Homo sapiens: one gene and its partners. The protein of the gene in region 2 purifies or fractionates together with the protein of the main gene of each other region. This does not show direct contact. Each region holds a gene or a part of one and is shown on either strand. Other genes may lie near its edges. The genes, in order: COPA, MTNR1B, CTNND1, RGS20 and GNAI3.

Region 1 (3,520 bases), on a different chromosome or scaffold from region 2:
CCCAGAACAGTCTTAAAACAGCACTTTTACCTTCATCCAACTGCAGCTCTGCATCCTCTCCCCAGCCCTCTGTACCAACAGTGTCAATGTCAATGTCAGCAGCCAGTGCTCCTCCCTTCCCTACAGAGGGAAGGAACAGAACGGAACTGGTTATAGTCCAGCAAGTCTGAGATACGGCCTTTTCTGTAGGCAGGTTAAATCCTTTCAAAAACAGGTGCCAAGCTTCTGCCTACTTACTATTTATTTTTGTGTATTATTTATTTTTGTGGTATATATGTTATGCTAACTTGCAGTAGCTTTCACAGAGGGAGGGAATAGAAGACAGATGGAAGGAACTGGCCTTCCTGCTACCAAAAACTGGCTCTTAAATAATTTGTACTTACCAGCCTTTGGCTACCAACTCTTGAATTTCTTCCTGAGCGCTTTGCTAAGCTACCACCACTACAATGTGTACAGGGCATCAGGCATAGGGTAGATAGAGGAGGTGGAGAAAAGAGTGGGGTTTGGCACAAAATGCTCAAGAGTCTGTTTAGGCTCTTACTCACGGGAAATGAACTAGGAGACCCAGAAAACAGGAGGAGGTTAAGGGTGGAAGTGGTGGAGGGTGATAGCACACATCTGCCTATACCCACATACCGGAATTACAGGTAGTTGAATTAGTACCTTTAAGATTGTATGTCATGAATGATAAAATACTGAACAAAGAACATGACTACATATATAGTAAAACCTAAGAAAATACACCAAAATATTAACCGAAGTTATTGATGGTAGTAGAGGGATCCCTTTTTTTCTCCCTATTTTCCAAATTTTCTTTAATGACCTGAAAATGCTATCTTAAGTTTTTAAGACTGCACCATAAATGACTGGCATTTCAATATTCCATTAGGCTCCATGCAGAAAAAAAGGACAAGTTAAACTAAATGCTAATGGTATTCTCTAGGACAGTTCTTCACAAAACAAACAACAAAAGTGCTATGGGAGAAATAGGTACTTACCTTTGCTGGCAATGGTGCCTTCAAAAAATCCTTTGGATACAGTCAATAAAGGCCAATTGGTATCCAATGGCATGATAGGTGCAGGTGGCTGGAGCAGCTTGGCATTAGGGTCAATGTCTGGGATCTGAATAGTAGAAGAAAAGAGGCTAAAAACAAATAGCACTTGGAAGTCACGTAAGGAAAGTTATGGAGCCTCCTTTGATCTCATTTGTTTCTCTGCCTCTCCTGGTAACCAGGTGGGAGAGTGACATTCATAATTTTAAATTGTTCTAAGATCCTAGAGTTAATCCTGTAATAAGAGACAATTATGTAAATAAAGACTCACTGTCTCCTTCTCTGGGTCAAATGTCTCCTTTAGGCTCTCAGCTTCTTCATCTAAGCCATGGGTAGCAGCTGTGAGATAGGCCAGGGACTCTGTAGAGAAAACAGACTTTGTGGTATAGGTACATTTCCAAATGCATGCTGCTGTGGTAAGCAACCTCTGAAATGGCCCCCCAGTAATCCCTGACTCCTGGTATTCAAGTTGTTGCAAAATACCCACCTCTTAAGTGTGGGCTGGATTTATTAAATAGCTTCTAATGGATGGAACATGGCAGATGTGATGGGATGTTACTTCCTAGATCTGGTTACAAAGATTGTGGCTTCTATCTTGGGGTGCCCTCTTTTGCTCACTTGCTGTAAGGGAAACTAGCTACCACGTTACAAACTCCTATGGAGAGGTCAACACGAAAAGAAAGTGATGTTTCTTAGACAACAGGGAGCAAGGACATGGGGGCTGCCAATGGCCATTGAGTGAGTGCAGAAGTAGATTCTCTCCCCGGTGAGTCTTCAGATATCTGCAGTTCTGGCCAACACTTTGACTGTAGCCTCATGAGAGATCCTAAGCCGGAGGCACCTAGCTAAGCCATGCCACAAATTGTGAAATAATAAATGTTTGTGGTTTTAAACTACTAAATTTGGGGATAATTTGTTACACAGAAATAGAGAACTAATATAGCTGCTTATCTTTGAGACGTATCCATCCGTGCTGAGAACCTTGGATATCCCTGACTCCTCTCTGTTACATCTCAAATCTAGTTACCGCAATAAATCATGTTGTTTCTACCTTAAAATATATCCTGAATCTGACCACTGCTCACCCCTCCACTAATAGCGCCTTGGTCCAAACCTCATCTTTCACCTTGCTTGTTTCCTAATGTATCTTAAATGCTAATATAATGCTTGGTATATAGTGGGTTCTCAAAAAATATCCCTTGACTATATACATGAATAAATGAGTGAAACCTCCAAACTGAAAATAAAGAATAAAATTCTAATGGCATCCAACCAAGTGCATTTACTAGGGCGTCCACTCAAGACCTTTTAAAACCTCCTATCTCCCCCATGAATAACTATTCTCCTAAGGGTGTTTGGCTGGACTGAATATTCTGGCTGCACCTCCCTTTGGCTTTGAAGAAAATCTTCTAAGCACAGTAGGAGCATGTTGTCTCTCCTAAAAAAATGCACAATAAAGAGAAATCCCTCACCACTATACACAGATTAACTCAACAAAAACAGAAAAATACTTCCTCAGACCCTGAAAAAGCTGGCAAGTCTCGGATACTTACTCTGTCCACAGTTCTTCAGGATCCGCACACGCTCTGACACATCACCCAGGTATAGGGCATTCTGATAGTGGCCACTCATGTCCTTTCTGATCTCAGCTGCACCAAGTAAGAGACACCAAGTTAGGTCTTTTCTCTTAAGTTCTCTTTCTCCTTAATTCACCTTCCTCCTTCCCCCAAGAACCCCTCTTCCCATCCTTAGTTTGAGGGCCTCACCAATCTTCATCATCTTGCGAAGTTTTTCTAAGTTGCCAGTGATAAGATACAGGAAGGAAAGTTTGTCAAAGTTTTTGGTACGCTGATAGCACATTTCCACAATCTGGTGGTTCCCCTGCAGCAGGGCCACTTCTCCCAGCTTTTCCCAGCAGTTCTTGTCATCCAGTGCTTTGGCTGCTTCCAGAGCAATCTAAAGAATCCCCAGGGTCGTGTTAACAGGTTGAAGGACAATGTGACTCAAAACCAAGGACTCTGCAAAGCATCTGCATCTATATAGATTTCCTGAAGAACTTCCTATACTTTCAATTACTCCTAGCTTTTAGTCTAATTCCATTGAAAATCGGCTGGGTGCGGTGGCTCACATCTGTAATCCCAGCACTTTGGGAGGCCAAGGCAGGCGGATCCCGAGGTCAAGAGCTCGAGACCATCCTGGCCAACATGGTGAAACCCTGTCTCTACTAAAAATACAAAAAAAATTAGCTGGGAATCATGGTGCACGCCTGTAGTCCCACCTACTCGGGAAGCTGAGGCAGGAGAATCGCTTGGACCCAGGAGGCGGAGGTTGCAGTGAGCCGAGATCATGCCATTGCACTCCAGCCTGGGCAACAAGAGCGAGACTCCGCCTCAAAAAAAAGAAAAAAAAAAAAAGAAAATCCAGTGAACACATAGGACCCCTTTGGATACAGAGATGGAAATAATTAC
Region 2 (3,520 bases):
TAGGAAACCAGGGAGACAGGATGTAACTGAATAGAAAGGAGATTGTCTGGACAATTAGAGCGCTTGTGAGGTAGTGAGTTTCCCTGTCTCAAGATTGTCCAGCAAGTTGGATGGCAAAGGAGAATCATGACTCAACTGAACTGCTGGATTCCTACCTACTCTACTATTCACAGATTTATTTACTTCATGGGTTAAAAATGACCTCATTTCCTTTCTGGTTGGTACAGCAAGGCAAAAAATGTGCAACAAGGACCTGCTTGGGATGTGGAGGGGTTTTGTGCCTTTTAATTTAATTCTCAGCCCGCTGGCTGTCTCCACTGCTGGATCTCCATCTCTGACTCATCTACACAGACCTCACTTGGTTCCAAGAACATGAGGGATTCCCTCTCTCACATTGCTTGTCTTCAGCTGAATCAGGAACCCTTGTCTCCTGAGAATTTTATGTGTCCTTTTGAAATCTGGAGGGTTGTGCTGAAGTCAGAGAAATCTGGGATAATCTGAGTCCTGCCACTTTATGGTTGAATGAATTTGGGCGAGTTCCCGAGTTCCTTTCTTGGTGACTATTCCTACATGAGCTCCTTTCTTTTCTTTCAGAGCTCTGCCATCACTTCCCCCTGCACACTCATAGGGTTGGTTCTGTGAAGAGAATCACTTCTCTCCAGCACAGGAAGATGAGTCTCCATAGGACCCGCTGGGCACCTGGCCCAGCAACACACAAGCTCTTGGCACTTGCAAGCTGAGCAGAGAAAGTCAAGAGCTGCTGGGAGCCGGTGCCAGCTCTGCCAGCTGTTTCCCTGTGAAGGCAGAGTCAAGTTCTGCTGTGTTAATGTGGCTTATCCCCTAATAATGCCCCAGAGGCTGGCAAACAGCTTGTAAATAGTAAGAAGAACACATTCAACTCCATGTGGAAAGTGATTCAATTACTATCCCCTATTACTCTGGCTGTTCCTAAAAGGCTGAAATCAACCACTTCCTGCTATAGATTCATCTGCCCAGACATCCCACTGTCTCCAGGCTTTCTTGGCACAATTCCAAATTAGATGAATAAAATTTGTGTTTTGTCTTCCATCTGTAAGAAGCCAGGTCCTATGTGGATGATAGTCAAGGGGAGATCCAGTTCTCCATCCATTTCTTCCCCAGACAGGTGAGAAATCACTCAGTATGCACACAGCACTGCAGTCACCGTGTGCATAATGAATATTTATGTCATGGGTCCTGGCGTGACTCGTTTCCATCTGCCTCCAGCAGATAGGGTGTATTAGTGGAGAGAGGCTTTGACAAGAGGGCTTTGTTTACTAACATGGAATCCCCTTCAGGATTCATACGCAGAGCGCATCCTTTCACACACACAACCATCACAGTCTCCTCCCTCTTCTCTTCCTCTCTCTTTCTTTCTGGAAAATGTATTTCTTAATGGAGATCTGGTAATCTAGGAAAGAGCCAGCCAGTGCTGAGCTATCTAATATTCGTCAGATAGGAGAATTCTGGAAGGTAAAGCTCCCTGTAACCCTTGCCCCCCTCCTCTGTGCTCACCCTCCATGCTCAGAAGAAAAATTTGGTTAGACATAAATTCTCCTTGGTCATTGAGCTAAAAGACAAGATAGAAAGAGAGAATCATCAAGTCATTTATGTGACAAATATTGCTGAGTATATACTAGGTTCTGCCTTTGACTATGCCAGATGGACAGGCTACCTCCCCTTATAAAGTTTATGGTCTCTTAGGGAAGACCATTAAACAAATAAAAACAAGGTGCCAAGAGGGATATGTTGGGGAAGTCAACAAATGATCTATGTTTTCTAACAGTGTTAAACTTTCTGTGCCTTGAGGTCTTCTTCCACTCTTCCATCTGTTTAAATGTGTAATATATTTATTGAGTGCCTACCACATTCAAGTAAGACGCAGTGATGGATGAAAGACATGGCCCCTGCCATTGAGATGCCCATGGAACTGTTAGGGAAACAAAAGAAAACAGTAGCCATTCAATTAGGTGAGAGCTGGAAGAAAGGCCAGAACAAGGTGGTGGGAACAGTGGGGAATTTGTGAGTCAACTTGGGACTGGGGACAATGGCAGGATATGGGGTTGGTCAGGCACGACAATTCACCAAGGAGCTACACAAAATTACCAAGACTTTTGCAACAGAACTCCTAACTCCCAGAATGGCTGTTTACCTCAAATAAGATGTTGTATGGGAAAGGTCATGAGAAATAACAATAATCACCAAATTAATGTGAGATATTCTTATTATGTTCTGGGGATGGGCATTTGAAATAATTGACCATATAATTTATTCACAACTTGATTTTCAAACAAACACTAAAACAATGCATTTATTGTAAGCTTGTAATTAGATTCCCAAATCTCTTGAGAGCAGATATTTTTTTCTTCCAAAGTCACATATTTATGAAAATCTTAGGATGTGTGGATGAATCATACAAGAGCTGAGTTGAAATCTAACTTTGATTTAATTAGAAAACAAAAACTGGCTAATCAATAGTGTACACAGATATATATGGGGGTATTTCAACCACTTAAAAGAAGAAAATATATTTAAGAACATAAGCATCCATTTAAAAACATAACTAAGATGCTTTACAAAATATTCTTCAATAACCATCAAAAGAGATCATTTTGAAATTCTGATAGGTAACATTTTATTACTTTACACTTAATAGCAACAAAACAACCATTGATATAACATGGTGAAGTTGATAGTATAGTTTTACATAAATGGACTCCATTGTTTTTCACAAGAATTCCTTAAGGTTGACAGCATGATTTCTGTTTTATAGATAAAGAAACAGACACCCAGTTTGTGTGAATTGCTCATAGCCATAACACAGAAGGATTGAGAAAGAACAAGAAGAGGAGAAAACCAAAGAAAAGAAATATCAAGGGAATTAAGAGAAAGGGTGTAGAGAGTTTCTTGGTCATCTACAAAAGTGAGAAAGGACAGAAAAGTGCTCATTGGACTTGGTAGTTAGGAAGGCAGTAGTGACATTAACAAGAACAAATTCTGTTGAGAGCTTGGGGATCCAGTTTTGCCCTGGAGATTGCTCTATCAGTGTTGCCTTCAAAAGAAGGAGATAGAGAGTGGCGCTTAGGAAGGAATATCCCTTTGATAGGGGACAGTGGAGGGCTTTTTTTGCCTTTTCTTTCTCTCTTAAAGGAAAGAGACTTGAATCTGGCATATAACAAGCACTAGTAATATTAGCTATTATTTGTTATTACTGTTTTATATTATTAGCTGTACTGACAGATCAAGAAAGAGGCTCATAAGGTTGGACTGGGATCCCTGTGAGATAAGATGTGAGAAGTAGTAAGGACATGAAGATGAAGAAAGTAGGACATTCCTTCTAGATGGCAAACTCCCTAAGAACTGGGGCTTTACTTCCCAATTCTCTATCTCTACTCCTCCAGCAGTAAGTATTTTAAATTGAAAGAGCCAGTAGGAGCTTTCAGTATTCTCTGAATTTTGTGGTATATCATATCCGAATGCAGAATCCAGCTTTCTGGAGATA
Region 3 (3,520 bases), about 35 Mb from region 2:
TCTGCCTCCCAGGTTCACGCAATTCTCCTGCCTCAGCCTCCCGAGTAGCTGGTATTACAGGCACACACCACCACACCTGGCTAATTTTTTGTATTTTTAGTAGAGACGGGGTTTCACTATGTTGCCCAGACTGGTCTCAAACTCCTGACCTCGTGATCCGCCCACCTCAGCCTCCCACAGGGCTGGGATTACAAGCGTGACCCACCGCGCCCAGCCATGAACAATTAAATTCTATACCACTCCAAAAGAAACAAATCTTTATATCCCTAGGTCACTTTACCTAGGAATGCCTTAAAGCCTACCATCTATCTTTCTTTCCATCCTATAGGAAGTCCCCAAGCAGGAAAATTGCCCTGACAGTAACTATGCTTATAAGGGAAGCTACTATAGACCCTGATATACCTTCTGTCTTCCCTATCCCATAAGATTTTCCCATCTCTTCATCCTTTCTATCTGGCCAGAGATCACTTCATGCAATCAGATCAATAATGGCATATCAGTCCTCCATCTTAATTAAGTGCTTAACCCCTCCCCTAATAGAGAAGAAAAGACCTCTTATCACTTCCAGATCTTACACACGTCTTAGTTTACCGTGGTCTCTGTGCGCCGAGTGGTCCCATCATCTGAGGTCTCCACAGAGACTACAGACATGGCTCCCTCAGGATCCTCCTCCGTGTAGGTCTCCACAATCTGCCCCGGCTCCTGCATCCTGGGGATGGTGCTATATAGAAGGTGACTGTGATCCTATATGCAAAAGAGAAAAGAGAAGAAACTACTATTAAGTGCTATGTATAACAAGCCATCCTAATAAGAAGCATAAGTGGTAAACCTGGAGACAGGGACTCCTCATGCATCTTCTATAGGCCTCAGGATTTTTAGATGGGTGGCTGTCATCTTTTGAACTTGTACAAAAGGACAGTAGACATAATTTCCCAGTTGTAGTCATTTAACAAACATGAACTAACTATAGCCACATCAACATCCAAGTGACAGACAGTAGATTTAACTTCCCAGCTGTGGTCATCTAAGTGAACATGAACTGTGTTAAATGCAGTTTCATCTATATCTGAGTGATCCCTCAAAAGAGCAGCTCACCCAATAAATAAATAACTTGTATTTATTTACTTGAGATAGGGTCTCACTCTATCACCCAAGCTAGAGTGCAGTGGCATGATCATAGCTCACTGGAGCCCCAACCTCCCAGGCTCAAGCAATCTTGCCATTTCAGCCTCCTGAGTAGCTAGAACTACAGGCTCACGCCACCATGCCTGGCTAATTTTATTTTTTTTGTAGAGACAGGGTCTATGTTGCCCAGGCTGGTCTTGAACTCCTGGGCTCAAGCAATCCTCCAGCCTCAGCCTCCCAAAGTGCTGGAATTACAGGAATGAGCAAACCACGCCTGGCCAAAATAAAGAACTTTGTTTTTTTTTTTTTTTTGAGACGGAGTTTTGCTCTGCCTTGGCCTCCCAAAGTGTTGGATTACAGGCATGAGACACCGTGCCCAGTCTAAAATAAAGAACTTTTTTTTTTTTTTTGAGACAGAGTTTTGCTCTTGTTGCCCAGGCTGGAGTACAATGGCATGATCTCAGCTCACCACAATCTCCGCCACCTGGTTTCAAGCAATTCTCCTGCCTCAGCCTCCCGAGTAGCTGGGATTACAGGCATGTGCCACCACGCCTGACTAATTTTGTATTTTCAGTAGAGACGGGGTTTCTCCATGTTGGTCAGGCTGGTCTCCAACTCCCGACCTGAGGTGATCTGCCCACCTCAGCCTCCCAAAGTGCTGGGATTACAGGCATGAGCCACCATGCCTGGCCAAAAATAAAGAACTTTTAAGACAAACCTGAAAATCCCAGTAAGAGCCATCTTTTGACTGGCTTTATGTTACTCTTCAGATACCGTCTAAAAGGCTCAAGACCAGCCAGATTTTAGGTAGGGTTTTTTGCTGCAAAGTAGAAGCCTACTGTCTCTAGAAAAGAAACGCAGTACTTAGGGATCAAATGGGGTGGCAGTGGGGAGGAGGAATAGTCATAAAGATCAATGGTCATTAAAATTCATTCCAAAACAAAACTGCATATATACTTTGGAGCTCCACTTCTTTGTTTTCGTAAATAAAAGAAACTAATTGACGAGTATGTACAATGTGCCAGGCACCTTACAAGACACAAATATGCTCTTATAGGCTGGGGAAATAAGAAAATATGAATGAAGCAACCCAGGTCTTGAGCCAAAGAATTACCTGGGGTCCGTTGAGTTTCAAATCTGAAAATTTCTGTCTTTCAAGGTCAGCATCGCCCACAAACCGGCCGTTCTGAAACACAGCCCACAAGAAGACAATTCATTTTGTGGCCTTCTTTTGCTCTATCAAATACAAACGATCTTTTTTTCAAACAGGAAAAGGGCTTTCAAGAAGATATGTGTGGCCTGGAGTCCTTGTGTCAGTACTCATAAAAGAACCATTCACTCTTTAGTCTTAGCACTTTCCTCAAAATTGAAAATCAGGCCTGGAACTCTGGCAGACAGGGTCTCTGGAACATAAGAACGTAAACTCCACGAGGGCAGAGGGTTTTTTGGGATAAGTTTAGTTTAGTCTAGTGCCTTGAACAGTGCCTGGCACATAACAGGTGCTCAAAAACTATTTGCTGAATAAACAGCACAGACCTAGATAATTTCCCTTACATGCAACCTTTTTGGAAAGCCATAAAAATGTAAGGAAAGTTGGAAGGGCTAAGTTGGGGGGTTTCCAAAGAGCTTTATAGTCTCATGAATCTTCATGCAGTACTACCACTGGAAACTCCCATTCCAGGCAGCTTTTTAAAGAAAGAAGCAAGATGGCTATCATGTCCTAATGTAAAAAACAGAAATTTAATTAAAGAAAAAAGCAAGAGATACGAGTCTCCCTTTCCAAGTACAAAAACAAGCACCCCAACTCCCCTCAAGAAAACAGAAGGCTCAATATCTTTACCAACAATTATTAGAGCCACAGAATACATTCCAAAATGTCATCCAGAAGTTGCTCTGTCTTAAGCAGCAGGAAATAATCTAATGACATTATACCACATAAAAATATATTTGCCTGCTCCTCTTCCAGTAGAATAGTGAGATCCAACCACCTTGGGAGACTCTTCCTCCACCCCACTCCCATTACATAGAGTGTAATGCTGCAGGGAGAGGAAGTTAAACATTACTTTCAGGAAGAAGGAAGGGTGTGGTTTTACTGCTAAGCAGAAGTTAAAAATAAGAGAGCAACCACATACTGAATCCTGGAATTCCCCATGACCTCCAAACCTGAGCAGTCCAGCTTTCTCCTTTCAATATAATTTCATCCCTAACTTTCTATTGTAGTTCCTGTAAAAATCCTAGGAACACTGCAAGCATGCTGCCTCCCTCAAATTCCTTGATCCTCCAACTGGAATTCTGTTCTCTCTCAACTGCAAGGCTCCTCAGTATGAGGGACTTTCTCTATCTTAAAAAAAAAAAAAAAAAAATCACTCAGCCGGGTGCAGTAGCTCACGCGTAA
Region 4 (3,520 bases), on a different chromosome or scaffold from region 2:
TTATCAGCTTAAGGAGATTTTGGGCTGAGATGATGAGGTTTTCTAAATATACAATCATGTCATCTGCAAACAGAGATAATTTGACTCTCTCTCTTCCTATTTGGATACCATTTATTTCTTTCTCTTGCCTGATTGCCCTGGCCAGAACTTCCAATACTATGTTGAATAGGAGTGGTAAGAGACGGCATTCTTGTCTTGTGCCAGTTTTCAAAGGGAATGCTTCCAGCTTTTGTCCATTCAACATGATATTGGTTGTGGGTGTGTCATAAATAGGTCTTGTTATTTTGAGATACATTCCATCAATACCTAGTTTATTGAGAGTTTTTAGCATGAAAGGGTGTTGAATTTTATTGAAGGCCTTTTCTGCATCTATTGAGATAATCATGTGGTTTTCGTCATTGGTTCTGTTTATGTGATGGATTATGTTTATTGATTTGCATATGTTGAACCAGCCTTGCATCCCAGGGATGAAGCCGACTTGATGGTGGTGGATAAGCTTTTTGATGTGCTGCTGGATTCGGTTTGCCAGTATTTTATTGAGGATGTTCGCATTGATGTTCATCAGGGATATTGGCCTGAAATTTTCTTTTTTTGTTGTGTCTCTGGCAGGTTTTGGTATCAGGATAATGCTGGACTCAAAATGAGTTAGGGAGGAGTCCCTCTTTTTCTATTGTTTCTATTGTTTGGAATGGTACCAGCTCCTCTTTGTACCTCTGGTAGAATTAGGCTGTGAATCTGTCTGGTCCTGGGCCTTTTTTTGGTTGGTAGGCTATTAATTACTGCCTCAATTTTAGAACTTGTTATTGTTCTATTCAGGGATTTGACTTCTTCCTGATTTAGTCTTGGGAGGGTGTATGTGTCCAGGAATTTATCTGTTTCTTCTAGATTTTCTAGTTTATTTGTGTAGAGGTGTTTATAATATTCTCTGATGGTAGTTTGTATTTCTGTGGGATCAGTGGTGATATCTGCTTTATAATTTTTTATTGTGTCTATTTGATTCTCCTGTCTTTTCTTCTTTATTAGTCTGGCTAGTGGTCTAGCTATTTTGTTGATCTTTTCAAAAACCAGCTCCTTGATTCATTGATTTTTTGAAGGATTTTTTGGTGTCCTCCTTCAGTTCTGCTCTGATCTTAGTTATCTGTTGTCTTCTGCTGGCTTTTGAATTTGTTTGCTCTCACTTCTCTAGTTCTTTAATTGTGATGTTAGGGTGTCAATTCTAGATTTTTCCTGCTTTCTCCTTTGGGCATTTAGTGCTATAAATTTCCCTCTAAACGCTGCTTTAGCTGTGTCCCAGAGATACTGGTAGGTTGTGTCTTTGTTCTCATTGGTTTCAAAAAACTTATTTATTTTTGCCTTAATTTCATTATTTACTCAGTAGTCATTCAAGAGCAGGTTGTTCAGTTTCCATGCAGTTGTGCGGTTTTGAGTGAGTTTCTTATTCCTGAGTTCTAATTTGATTGCACTGTGGCCTGAGAGACTGTTTGTTGTGATTTCTGTTCTTTTGCGTTTGCCGAGGAGTGTTTTACTTTCAATTATGTGGTCAATTTTAGAATAAATGTGATGTGGTGCTGAGAAGACTGTATATTCTGTTGGTATGGGGTTGAGAGTTCTGTAGATGTCTATTAGGTCTGCTTGGTCCAGAGCTGAGTTCAAGTCCTGAATATCCTTGTTAATTTTCTGTCTCGTTAATCTGTCTAATATTGACAGTGGGGTGTAAAAGTCTCCAACTATTATTGTGTGGGAGTCTACGTCTCTTTGTAGGTCTCTAAGAACTTGCTTTATGAATATGGATGCTCCTTTATTGGGTGCATATATGTTTAGGATAGTTATCTCTTCTTGTTGTGTTGATCCCTTTACCATTATGTAATGATGCCCTTCTTTGTCTTTTTTGATCATTGTTGGTTTAAAGTCTGTTTTATCAGAGACTAGGATTGCAACGCTTGCTTCTTTTTGCTTTCCATTTGCTTGTAAATATTCCTCCATGCCTTTATTTTGAGTCTATGTGTGTCTCTGCACGTGAGATGGGTCTCCTAAATACAGCACACTGTTGGGTCTTGACCTTTAGCCAATCTGCCAGTCTGCATCTTTTAATTGGGGCATTTAGCCTGTTTACATTTAAGCTTAATATTGTTATGTGTGAATTTGATCCTGTCATTATGATGCTAGCTGGTTATTTTGCCCATTAGTTGATGCAGTTTCTTCATAGTGTTGATGGTCTTTACAATTTGGTACATTTTTGTAGTGGCTGATGCCGGTTTTTCCTTTCCGTGTGTAGTACGTCCTTCAGGAGCTCTTGTAGGGCAGGCCTGGTGGTGACAAAATCTCTCAGCATTTGCTTGTCTGTAAAGGATTTCATTTCTCCTTTGCTTATGAAGCATAGTTTGGCTGGATATAAAATTCTGGGTTGAAAATTCTTTTCTTTAAGAATGTTGAATATTGGACCCCACTCTCTTCTGGCTTGTAGGGTTTCTGCAGAGAGATGTGCTGTTAGTCTGATGGGCTTCCCTTTGTGGGTAACCCGACCTTTCTCTCTGGCTGCCCTTAACATTTTTTCCTTCATTTCAACCTTGGTGAATCTGATGATTATGAGTCTTGGGTTGCTCTCTACGAGGAATATCTTCGTGGTGTTCTCTGTATTTCCTGAGTTTGAACGTTGGCCTCTCTTGCTAGGTTGGGGAAGTTCTCCCAGATAATATCCTGAAGAGTGTTTTCCAACTTGGTTCCATTCTCCCCGTCACTTTCAGGTACACCAATCAAATGTAGATTTGGTCTTTCTCATAGTCCCATATTTCTTGGAGGCTTTGTTCATTCCTTTTCATTCATTTTTCTCTAATCTTGTCTTCACACTTTATTTCATTAAGTTGATCTTCAATCTCTGATATCCTTTCTTCCACTTGATCAATTCGGCTATTGATACTTGTGTATGCTTCAGGAAGTTCTTGTGCTGTGTTTTTCAGCTACATCAGGTCATTTATATTCTTCTCTAAAATGGTTATTCTAGATAGCAATTCCTCTAATCTTTTTTCAAGGTTCTTAGCTTCCTTTCATTGGGTTAGAACATGCTCCTTTAGCTCAGAGGAGTTTATTACCTACCTTCTGAAGCCTCCTTCTGTCAATGCGTCAAACTCATTCTCTGTCCAGTTTTGTTCCCTTGCTGGCAACGAGTTGTGATCCTTTGGAGTAGAAGAGACATTCTGGTTTTTGCAATTTTCAGCCTTTTTGCACTGGTTTTTCCTCATCTTCATGGATTTATCTACCTTTGGTTTTTGATGTTGGTGATCTTTGGATGGGGTTTCTGTGTGGACGTCCTTTTTGTTGATGTTGATGCTATTCCTTTCGTTTGTTAGCTTTCCTTCTAACAGGCCCCTCTGCTGCAGGTCTGCTGGAGTTTGCTGGAGGTCCATGCCAGACCCTGTTTGCCAGGGTATCACTAGCAAAGGCTGCAGAACAGCTGCCTGTTCCTTCCTCTGGAAGCTTCATCCCAGAGGGGCACCCACCAGAGGCCAGTTGGAGCGCTCCT
Region 5 (3,520 bases), on a different chromosome or scaffold from region 2:
CTACATCTCAACTTTTTGGCCTACCACCTCACTCAAAATGTTACATATCTGCACTTATTTGTACTTCTGGTCTTAGAGGTGTCTTACTTCTTGCTCAAAAATCAATTGCTCTACCTATACTCTTTTAAAAAAATTATTGAGGAAAATTAACATAACAGATATTTAACCATTTTAAAGTGTACAATTCTGTGGCACTTAGTGTATTCACAATGTTATGCAATCACCACCTCTCTCTAGTGACAAAACTTTTTCAACACCCTATTCCCATTAAGTAATCACTCCCTTTTCTTCCCATTCTCCCACTTCTCATAACCACTAATATTCTTTCTGTCTCTATGGACAGAAATTGCCCTATTTTGGATATATCATATAATAGAAGTATTGGCCTCTTTTACTTAGCACAGTGTTTTGAGTTTCATACAAGTTGTACCATCTATTATTATTCCTTTTCTTGGGTAAGTAATATTCATTGTATGTATATAACACAATTTGTTTATCCATTTATCCTACCTAGACTCTTAATTCCTTTTTTCCCACCTGCTTGCAAATCTTGCTCCTTCAATTACATCTGTTTTTTAATGTATCTCTTTTGCTTATAGGATCTTAGCCCTCAGCCTATAAACATTCTTAAATCTCTCCCTTCCCTTTAAACCCACGTTGCTCAAGAGTAGTCTACACTTGTCTTCTTTCTTCACTTTCCATTCTGTAACTCACTGTACTCAACTTTCCACTGACACTGCTCTCAACAGCAGGTCAACGACCTCCTAACTGTTAACTCCAAAGGCTCTTTTTCAGTATGTATCTTACTTATCTGCAGATAACACTGTTGACTGAAATATTTAATCAACTCACTTTTTAACCTCTCCTTTTGGTTATGATATCTTTCTTCCTCTCCTGCCAATAGAGGCTGCTATTCTCTCTCGTTCTACCTGTGGTCCTTTTTCTCCTCATTCTATAATATTATCTCCATAGGTCATTTCACCCATTTCCATGTTTTCACTACTGATGATCTCAAACCCCAACCTCTCCTCAACCTCGAATATAACTGTCCATGAGATATTATTTCAACGTTCTATGAATAATTAAAAATCAACATTCCTATACATGAATTCAGGTCACAGCACCAGCATCCAAGACAGAAACCTGGGAGTACCTCTGACTCTTCCCACTTCCTTACCCCTGCTTTACCCCTTCACTTTATTGATTGATTGATTGATTGATTGATTGATGGAGTCTCACTCTGTCACCAGGCTGGAGTGCAGTGGTGCGATCTCGGCTCACCGCAACCTCCGCCTCCCGGGTTCAAGCGATTCTCCTGCCTCAGCCTCCCGAGTAGCTGGGATTACAGGCGCACACCACCATGCCCAGCTAATTTTTCTATTTTTAGTAGAGACAGGGTTTCACCACATTGGTCAGGATGGTCTCGATCTCTTGACCTCATGATCCACCTGCCACGGCCTCCCAAAGTGCTGGGATTACAGGCATGAGCCACTGCACCCAGCCTCACTTTATTATAGAAAGCATTTACAGTGTCTCTGCTAATAAGAGTTCCCCTTCTCTGGAAATACCTGATTCTGATCTATAAGTTTCATAGTGATCCATCCCTGGCAGTTACATTTGTGCCCCTGACCTCAACTGATTGGCCTACAGATTTCTGCCTGACTTAACCACGGCCAGAATCTCTCTCCTTGGAATTTGAAACCAAGGCCAAGCAATCCCAGTCTAGTCTGATCTTTTTTTTTTTTTTGCTCAGTCGCCCAGGCTGGAGTGCAGTGGCGCGATCTCGGCTCACTGCAAGCTCTGCCTCCCGGGTTCATGCCATTCTCCTGCCTCAGCCTCCCGAGTAGCTGGGACTACAGGTGCCTGCCACCAAGCCCAACTAATTTTTTTTGTATTTTTAGTGGAGACGGGGTTTCACTGTGTTAGCCAGGATGGTCTCGATCTCCTAACCTCATGATTCACCCGCCTCGGCCTCCCAAAGTGCTGGGATTACAGGCGTGAGCCACCGCGCCCAGCCTAGTCTGATCTTTTTACCAGAGATACAGAAACTGTGACTAGGCTGTTATCACATAAACTGAATAGCAGAGAAAGCTGGTTAGGAAAGAAAGAATAATAAAAAAGATACACAGAGAGGAGAGAAAAAAGATGGGGATAAAGAGTGCTTCCAGGGTTCCTGACAATTATTTCCTAGTTCTAATTCCATTCTAAGACCTGTCCATTCTTGCCCTTGGGTTCTATGATATATCCCTTAATCCCCATCAAAAGTTTTTATTTCCATCCTGAGTTCTTACTAATTCAAATCCCCTACTATCTATCTTTATTATTTATTGCATAATCTTTCTCAAGCACAGTTTCTTCTATATCATGCACCCCATGATATGGATCATGGTAGGATATTAAACCTTTAACTGATCATCGTCTCAGCATGAGATATAAGGCCCTCCATGAGTTGATCTCTGACCATCTCTCCAACCACTTCTTCCCTGCCACTGTAAACTCTAGTAATACCAAATTCCTTCTGGGTTCCACAACTGGTCATACCATTTTCCTACCTCCATATTCTCATATATGCAATTCCTCTTTTCTAAAATGCTTTTATTCCCGTCTGCCTGATGATTTCTATTTCATCCTCTTAGTAGCTCTAGAAAAAGACTACAGTGACCCCATCAGAAGTAACCACTTCTATTCCACTTCTATTAATGCATATTTTACACTATAATAAAATTATTTATGTGCAATTAAACACTATAATAAAATTATTTATGTCTCTCTGCAACTACATGTCAGTCTCTTGGGCACAATGATTAAAATTTACCCTTGTATTTTCTTCAACATATACCAAATTTTACTTTATTTTTTGTGAGGCAGGGGGGTGTCACTATGTTGCCTAGACTGATCTCAAACTCTTGGGCTCAAATGATCCTCCTGCCTCAAGCTTCCAAGTAGCTAGAATTATAGCCACCATGCCCAGCTCCCAAATTTACTTTTTCTCCTTTTGTATTTTCCTCAAAAAATGAAGATAGAAATTTAAAATAAACACAGAAAACTCAATTGTGTCTGATATGGCACTCTTGACTTAGGGGCTTTTAATCACAGGCTTAATGCCAATGCCACTACCACTGAATACTCTCCCAATCAATCATTAAAAAAAAAAAGGCAGTTTTATGAATGCCACCAAAGTGTTGATCTAAGTAAGATGTGTACCTCCAATAAAATCTTTCATAACCCCTTACCTGTGTATTCTGGATAACAGATAGTTAACGGACTCCTCTTTATTTTTTCCTCAAAAAGGTCTTTCTTGTTAAGGAAGAGAATGATTGAAGTTTCTGTAAACCATTTGTTATTACAAATGCTGTCAAACAGTTTCATGCTTTCATGCATTCGGTTCTGAAAAAGAAATAAAGGATGATAGGTCAGTAGCAAATAGTAAAAGTGGATTAAGTTAATGAAAAAGACAAACCAACAAGTTTTGCAGCACTAAATGGCATTCACGGAAATAAGTCAAACACCAATAAGATAA

What was found.
Region 1: the proteins of MTNR1B (region 2) and COPA purify together in Homo sapiens (tandem affinity purification; 2 studies listed by IntAct). This does not show direct contact.
Region 3: the proteins of MTNR1B (region 2) and CTNND1 purify together in Homo sapiens (tandem affinity purification; one large-scale study listed by IntAct). This does not show direct contact.
Region 4: the proteins of MTNR1B (region 2) and RGS20 purify together in Homo sapiens (co-immunoprecipitation; one study listed by IntAct). This does not show direct contact.
Region 5: the proteins of MTNR1B (region 2) and GNAI3 purify together in Homo sapiens (tandem affinity purification; 2 studies listed by IntAct). This does not show direct contact.

Annotation. Positions count from the first base shown.
Region 1 is NC_000001.11:160,294,738-160,298,257, forward strand, and holds part of COPA (coatomer subunit alpha), read right to left. Parts: intron 3,009-3,520; coding exon 2,819-3,008; intron 2,702-2,818; coding exon 2,606-2,701; intron 1,413-2,605; coding exon 1,324-1,412; intron 1,123-1,323; coding exon 999-1,122; intron 121-998; coding exon 31-120; intron 1-30. UniProt on the Homo sapiens protein: The coatomer is a cytosolic protein complex that binds to dilysine motifs and reversibly associates with Golgi non-clathrin-coated vesicles, which further mediate biosynthetic protein transport from the ER, via the Golgi up to the trans Golgi network.
Region 2 is NC_000011.10:92,976,151-92,979,670, reverse strand, and holds part of MTNR1B (melatonin receptor type 1B), read right to left. Parts: intron 2,513-3,520; exon of another isoform or gene 1,981-2,512; coding exon of another isoform or gene 1,884-1,980; intron 1-1,883.
Region 3 is NC_000011.10:57,792,801-57,796,320, reverse strand, and holds part of CTNND1 (catenin delta-1), read right to left. Parts: intron 2,312-3,520; coding exon 2,240-2,311; intron 745-2,239; coding exon 592-744; intron 1-591. UniProt on the Homo sapiens protein: Key regulator of cell-cell adhesion that associates with and regulates the cell adhesion properties of both C-, E- and N-cadherins, being critical for their surface stability.
Region 4 is NC_000008.11:53,932,866-53,936,385, reverse strand, and holds part of RGS20 (regulator of G-protein signaling 20), read right to left. Parts: intron 1-3,520. UniProt on the Homo sapiens protein: Inhibits signal transduction by increasing the GTPase activity of G protein alpha subunits thereby driving them into their inactive GDP-bound form.
Region 5 is NC_000001.11:109,586,596-109,590,115, reverse strand, and holds part of GNAI3 (guanine nucleotide-binding protein G(i) subunit alpha-3), read right to left. Parts: intron 3,388-3,520; coding exon 3,234-3,387; intron 1-3,233. UniProt on the Homo sapiens protein: Heterotrimeric guanine nucleotide-binding proteins (G proteins) function as transducers downstream of G protein-coupled receptors (GPCRs) in numerous signaling cascades.